Homo sapiens: one gene and its partner. The protein of the gene in region 2 purifies or fractionates together with the protein of the main gene of each other region. This does not show direct contact. Each region holds a gene or a part of one and is shown on either strand. Other genes may lie near its edges.

Region 1 (3,816 bases), on a different chromosome or scaffold from region 2:
ACTTGAACCCAGGAGGCAGAGATTGCAGTGAGCCGAGGTCACGGCATTGCACTCCAGCCTGGGCAATAAGAGCAAAACTCTGCCTCAAAAAAAGAAAAAAAGAAAAAGAAAAGAAAGAAACCACACCAGCAACCTGGTCCTGAAGATCTTTCTCCAGTCTGTTTCTCTCTCTCTCTCTCATATGAACTTGCACTCACACAGATCACATGCACGGGGACTCACCACAATCTCCGAATGTTACAGCCAGGATGCTGGAGCGTTTCACACAACACTCTCATCCCTGGGTCCCCCAGAGAATTGTCACTGAGGTCCAATTCAGTTAGACTCTGGCTGGTGCTCAGAACTGAAAAGAGGCCCCGGCAAAAACTGGAAGTGAGGTGGCTGTTCACCAATCTAGGAATTAGAAGGAAGACAGACAGAAAAGAAATCAGCCTCGAATAATAACTAACTGGAGCTGGGGGCCGGGGTGCCTGGCACCAGTTCAGAGAAATGCCTTCCGGGGATTAAGAAATGGGTCACGAAACCAAAAATTGTTCCCAGAGAAATGAAGAGGGCTGGATGAGCCTTGGTAAAAGCAGTTCTGCCTCCTCTCGGACGGAGAGCATGAGCCTGTGACTGTGGCGGACTGTGGCACCCTACAGCCTGCTCCCCAGTGTCCTCCTCTCGCCCTTACCAGTCCACTGTCCCAACATGGCCCTGAACGTTCTGTGCTGGGTGATCAGAGGGCAGTCCTCACTCCTGGCTACACAACAGCATCAGGAGTGCTCACAAAAATCCTCAGGCCAGGCTGGGCATGGTGGCTCACACCTGTAATCCCAGCACTTTGGGAGGCCGAGGCGGGCAGATCACCTGAGGTCAGGAGTTCAAGATCAGCCTGGCCAACATGGTGAAACCCTCTCTCTACTAAAAATACAAAAATTAATTGGGTGTGGTGGCACGAGCCTGTCATCCCAGCTATTAGGGAGGCTGAGGCAGGAGAATCACTTGAACCTGGGAGGTGGAAGTTGCAGTGAGCCAAGATCATGCCACAGCACTCCAGCCTGGGCAACAGAGCAAGACTTCATCTCAAAAAAAAAAAAAAGAAAAAGAAAATCGCAAGCCCAGGCCACATCCATGGAAATAAAATCAGAAGCTCTGAGGTGGAACTAGATGAATTTTTTAAATTTTTTTTCAGATGAAACCCAAGCTGGAATGCAGTGCCATGATCATAGCTCACTGCAGCCTCAAACTCCTGGGCTCAAGCAATCCTCTTGCCTCAGCCTCCCGAGTAGCTGAGGTTACAGGCACGAGTCACTGTGTCCAGCTATATGGATCTTTTTTATTTAAAAAAAGCCAGGTGGCTCCAACATGCAGTCACATTTTTGCTTTTGTTTTTCTGTAGAGAGGTGCTCTCACTTTGCTGCTCAGGTAGGACTTGAATTCCTGGCTTCAAGCAATCCCCCCATCTTGGCCTCCCAAAACCTAGGATTACAGGCAAGAGCCACTGCACCCACACATGCAGTCACCTTTGAATCACCTGTAGCTCTCATTCAAATGCAAAGTCTAGCTCTCTAGGTCTAAGATTGGGTCCACAATCCTGCATTTCTAATAGATGCTCAGGCTTCTGGTTCTCAGAAGGGACTGGAACATACAAAGCAAGCTCCTGCCCTCAGAGTAAGGCAGCTGCCATCTAGAAAGATGGGTGCTGAGCCCCCTACCAGGGCTCCAGTCAGAGTCTGTCCTCAGAGTAAGGCAGGTGCCATCTAGAGGGATGGGTGCTGAGCCCCCTACCAGGGCTCCCGTCAGAGTCTGTCCTCAGAGTAAGGCAGGTGCCATCTAGAGGGATGGGTGCTGAGCCCCCTACCAGGGTTCCAGTCAGAGTCTGTCCTGAGGAAGGAAGGTGCTATCTAGAGAAATGGGTGCTGAGCCTCCTACCGGGGCTTCAGTGAGAGTCTGTCCTCAGAGGAAGGAAGGTGCTATCTAGAGAAATGGGTGCTGAGCCCCCTGCCAGGGCTCCAATCAGAGTCTGTCCTCAGAGGAAGGAAGGTGCTATCTAGAGAAATGGTTGCTGAGCCTCCTACCGGGGCTTCAGTGAGAGTCTGTCCTCAGAGTAAGGCAGGTGCCATCTAGAGGGATGGGTGCTGAGCCCCCTGCCAGGGCTCCAATCAGAGTCTGTCCTCAGAGGAAGGAAGGTGCTATCTAGAGAAATGGGTGCTGAGCCTCCTACCGGGGCTTCAGTGAGAGTCTGTCCTCAGAGGAAGGAAGGTGCTATCTAGAGAAATGGGTGCTGAGCCCCCTGCCAGGGCTCCAATCAGAGTCTGTCCTCAGAGGAAGGAAGGTGCTATCTAGAGAAATGGGTGCTGAGCCTCCTACCGGGGCTTCAGTGAGAGTCTGTCCTCAGAGTAAGGCAGGTGCCATCTAGAGGGATGGGTGCTGAGCCCCCTACCAGGGCTCCAGTCAGAATCTGTCCTCAGAGGAAGGAAGGTGCTATCTAGAGAAATGGGTGCTGAGCCTCCTACCGGGGCTTCAGTGAGAGTGTGCAAACCTTCCTCACAGATGTGTGATCTTCATAAGGTCTCCCTGCCCTCTCCACCTTCCACCTCACTCTTAATGAGTAGTTCTGCCTACTTTTCTCTCTGTCTTACTCTTCTTCTCCCATTTCTATGGTCTGAATGTTTGTGTGCCCCAAAATCCATACGCTGAAATCCTAACCCTCAACATGACGTATCAGGCGATGGGGCCTTTGAGGTGTGGTTAAGTTATGAGGGTGGAGCCCTCAGGAGTGGGATTGCTGTCCTTAGGAAAGGGACCCCAGAGAGCTGCCTTGCCTCTTCACCATGTAAGGACACAGTGAGAAGGCACCATCGACCAGGGAACAGGCCCTCACCAAACACCAGATCTGCCAGAGCCTGGATCATGGACTTCCCAGCCTCCAGAACCGTAAGGTGAACCTTCCTTTTGCTTATAAGCCAACCAGCCTGCAGTGTTTTGTTATGGCAACCTGATGAATGAAGACAACTGTCTTTTTTCCAGTCACTCGGAACTGTTTGCTGCCGTAGAAACCGTACCCTGCTTTCCCACACCTGCCCTCTCTCTCAACACCGTAAGCCCCCAGCCTGGCTGCCCCTTTCCTTCTCTCACTCTCTCACTGCCCATCCTCCGGAAGCTGGCTGAGCGGGGACACCCACCCGTGCCCCGCTGGTGAACAGGTTCGTCCCCTTGTGCTTTGGATACTCTGCAAGTTTCCTTGTCAGAGCCCATGACCCCCTCCCCGACATCTGCACTTGTTTCCGGACTGTCCCACAGCCAGACCTCAAGTCCCTGTGACCAGGACCTGGGTCTTCACCACCACTGCGGCCCTGTGGGCAGTCAGTCCTTCATGGCCAAACCATGACTAGGAAGGTGGTCCTGGTCATGGTAATGTCAACGGATCAAGAAAGCTGAAACTCATTGTTGCCTGTGGAAGGGCCAAGCCTCCTGTTTCCCTTAATTTTGCCCCACGTCAAGTGTCTTCTATCCAGGCTAAACTCACACATCACAGGGTGGCCACCTTCCTACAACCACTGTGGGTGGTCCTTCTGCAGGAGGCACTGAACGATAAACCCAAAAGGGACTCAGAAGTCAGGTGACTCAACCACTTCATTGCACAGACTTGGCCACTAGCTTCCAACCACCCAGCAAGTGTGTGAACAGACCCGAAAACGGGGTTTTGGCAATGCCCAGTGCAGAGCAACATGGGGGCCTAGAAAGAGGGTCTCCACATTTCTGCTCTATTTCCCTTGATTTACCTTCATCATGTTTTTTTCCAAGGAAACTGTGTCTCTCTCCACTGTCACC
Region 2 (3,816 bases):
GTTTTAGTATACCTCTTTATCATACTGACAAACTTCCCTTCTGTTCCTAGTTTGCTGAGAATTTTTGTAATGAATAGTGATTGGATTTTGTCAGTTTTTTCTGCATCCATTGAAATGATCATATTTTAGTCTTATTCTGTTGACTTGGTGAATTACAGTGATTGATTTTTTCTTTTTTTTTTTTTTTTTGAGACGGAGTCTTGCTCTGTCGCCCAGGCTGGAGTGCAGTGGCGTGATCTCGGCTCACTGCAAGCTCCACCTCCCAGGTTCACGCCATTCTCCTGCCTCAGCCTCCCGAGTAGCTGGGACTACAGGCGCCCGCCACCACGCCCGGCTAATTTTTTGTATTTTTTAGTAGAGACAGGGTTTCACCGTGTTAGCCAGGATGGTCTCGATCTCCTGACCTCGTGATCCGCCTGCCTCAGCCTCTCAAAGTGCTGGGATTACAGGCATGAGCCACTGTGCCCAGCCAGTGATTGATTTTTCTAATGTTAAACCAACCTTTCTGGGATAAACCCCACTTGATCATGATGCTTTATTGTTTTTATATATTATTGAATTTGATTTGCTAATATTTCCTAAAGGATATTAGTATCTGTGTTTATGAGGAATATTGTTCTTACACTTTTCTTCTCTTGTGATGTCTTTGTCAGGCTTTGTTATAAGGATTATACTAGCCTCATAAAATAGGCTGGAAAATGTTCCTTCCTCTGTTTACTGAAAGATTTTGTTTAATATTGGTATTATTTCTTGCTTGTTTGCTAAAATTTGTCTTTTCTTTAGCTCTATTTCTGCTAATTTTTTTTAAACTTTGTTATTGGATACAAGCATATGTATTATGATGAGTTAACTCATCTTGTCATGATAAATTGTCCCTCTTCATCTCTGCTAAGACTCCTTGACTTGAAGTCTATTTGAATGATTCATTTTTAATCTAGCTAATGTTTATTTGGTCATTTCTTTCTGTCATTTTCGGCCTTTGTATTTAAAGTGTGACTTTGTGGACAGCATATAATGGGTCTTGCTTTTTTAACTAGCTTGACAATCTTTTAGTTGGAATGCTTAGTCCATTTACATTTAATGTAAGTATTGATGTGATTAGATTTAGGTCTGCCATTTTACCATTTGTTTTCTGTTTGTCTTACATATTTTCTTGTTCCTCTGTTCCCCCTTCACTGGCTTCTTTCAGGTTAATGGAATACTTTTTAGTATTCCATTTTAATACCTTTGTTGGCCTTTTAGCTTTACTCTTGTGTGTTTGTGTTGGGGGGGGAGGGTGTGTGTGAGAGATTACGTTATGCAGTTTTACCTTATCACATTCTATTTAGAGTTAATATTATACTTCATGTAAAATCCTGGAATATTACAAAAGTATAGTTCTGTTACCCCAGCCTTTGTGCTATTATACATACATTATAAACCTCACAATACTGTGTCATAGTTTTTGCTTTAAAGAGTTATATGTGTTTCATTTCATTTCCTTTGGATATATACCTGGAAGTGGTATTGCTAGTTCATACAGTAGTTCTGTTCTTAACTTTTTGAGGAACCTCCTCCGTACAATTTTCCATAATAGCTGCACCAGCCAGGTGCTGTGGCTCACGTCTGTAATCCCAGCACTTTGGAAGGCTGAGACGAGTGGATCACGAGGTCAGGAGTTCAAGACCAGCATGGCCAACATGGTGAAACCCCGTCTCTACTAAAATTACAAAAATTAGCTGGGCCTGGTGGCGGGCGTCTGTAATCCCAGCTACTCGGGAGGCTGAGGCAGGAGAATGGCTTGAACCCAGGAGGCCGATGTTGTGGTGAGCCGAGATCACGCCACTGCACTTCAGTCTGGGCGACAGAGTGAGACTGAGTCTCAAAAAAAAAAAAAAATAGCTGCACCAGTTTACATTCCCACCAGTAGTATGCAAGAGTTGCCTTCTCTTAAGAGGCTGAGGCAGGAGAATTGCTTGAACCTGGGAGGCAGAGGTTGCAGTGAGCCGAGATCACACCACTGCATGCCAGCCTGGGCGACAAAGCGAGACTCCATCTCAAAAAAAAAAAAAAGAGTTGCCTTCTCTTCTACTAATTAATTAATAGAAAAATATGTTTACCATTTTTCTTGTTCTCAGTCTTTCTTGTAGATCAAAATCCATTTGATGTTTTTTCCCTTTTGGCCTAAAAACTTCCTTTTAACATTTGTTATAGGTGTACTGCTGACAGATACACTTAGATTTCATGTATATGAAAATGTTTTTGTCTTGCCTTCATTTTTGAAGAATACTACTGCTGGATATAGAACTTTGGGTTGACAGTGTTGCCGTGGTTTTGCTTTGGTTTATTTTAAATTCATCACTTTAAGGACATTGTTCTATTGTCTTCTGGCCTCCATTTTCTCAGTTAGTGTCATTTATATCATTCTTGTCTATGTAAATTGTCATTTGTTTTTCTTCTGCTTACACTGCTTACAAAATTTTCTCTTTATTTTTGTTCATGCTGCGCATAGATGTGGTTTTCTTAGTATTTATCTTATTTATCTTGTTTGGGGTTTGCTGAGTTTCTTAAATTTGTACTTTTTTTAACCAAGTTTGAAAATTCTTGGCTGTTATTTTTTCAACAAAGATTTTATGCCCATTTTTCACTTGTTATTTTACTTAATGTTGGCCCACAGGTCACTGAGGTCTTGTTCAATTTTCTTCAATCTTTCTTCTGTGTGTTCTTTAAATTAGATCATTTCTATTGACTTATCTTCACGTTCACTGATTCTTTTTTCTCTTTTTTTCTTTTCTTTTTCTTTTTTTTTTTCTTTTTTTTTTTTTTTTTTTTTTTTTTTTGTGACAGGGGTCTTAGCTCTGTCACCGAGGCTGGATTGCAATAATGTGATCATAGCTCACTGCAGCCTCAACCTCCCAGGCTCAAGTTATCCTCCCACCTTAGCCCCCTGAGCAGCTGGGACTACAGGTGTGTGCCACCACACCCAGCTAATTTTTTTTTATTTTTTGTAGAGACAGGGTCTCACTGTGTTGCTCAGGTTGGTCCTGAACTCCTGGGCTCAAGTGATCCTTACACTTCAGCCTCCCAAAGTGTTGGGATTACAGGTGTGAGCCACCATACCTGGCCTGATTCTTTTTTCATCTCCAATCTCTGTTTGCCTATGCAACAAATTTTTCATCGTAATCACTGTTGTTTTTAGTTATAGAATTTCCATTGCCTTCTTTTTAATAGTTTCCATTGTTCTGAGATTCTCAATTTGTTCATTCACTGTCACTGTATATTTTCCTTTACATCCTTGAGCATATTTATGATACATCTGTGAGGTCCTCGTGTGCTGACTTCTTTGTATTTTATGTTTGGTAATTTTTTATTGTATGCTTAACATCATAATAGAGACATAGAGAGTAGGGATTCTGTTACATATCTATGAAGAAAAATTAATTTTCTTCTGGCCTGCAGTTAACCTGGCTGGGCTCAAACTCAACTCTGTCTCCCCTACATTGGGCAGCAAAATCTCTGCTCAGTTTTTTTAGCTTCCAGCTGCTACTTTTTGCCAGGCTCCCTGGAGTTTCCCCCTGTGCACGTGTGGTTCAGGGATCAGCCCTGGAATTGAACAGAGTTTAGGTATAAACTTTGGGGCTCATCCCCTCTGTGTCTCCTTTCTTCCTGGCATTTCCCCTGGTCTCTCCACCAGCCCTGATTCTTGAACTCTGTCGTCTGACCACTCAATCCTGTAGGATGCTGCTTTTCGCCACCCAGCACCACATCAACCAGGAAAAAAAGCCACAAACACACAAATCTCGCCCACAGAGTTCTGTTTTTCCAACAGTTGACTTC

Evidence for each region.
Region 1: the proteins of USP30 (region 2) and NLRP3 purify together in Homo sapiens (affinity purification with western blotting; one study listed by BioGRID). This does not show direct contact.

Annotation. Positions count from the first base shown.
Region 1 is NC_000001.11:247,426,162-247,429,977, reverse strand, and holds part of NLRP3 (NACHT, LRR and PYD domains-containing protein 3), read right to left. Parts: intron 394-3,816; coding exon 223-393; intron 1-222. UniProt on the Homo sapiens protein: Sensor component of the NLRP3 inflammasome, which mediates inflammasome activation in response to defects in membrane integrity, leading to secretion of inflammatory cytokines IL1B and IL18 and pyroptosis.
Region 2 is NC_000012.12:109,076,561-109,080,376, forward strand, and holds part of USP30 (ubiquitin carboxyl-terminal hydrolase 30), read left to right. Parts: intron 1-3,816. UniProt on the Homo sapiens protein: Deubiquitinating enzyme tethered to the mitochondrial outer membrane that acts as a key inhibitor of mitophagy by counteracting the action of parkin (PRKN): hydrolyzes ubiquitin attached by parkin on target proteins, such as RHOT1/MIRO1 and TOMM20, thereby blocking parkin's ability to drive mitophagy.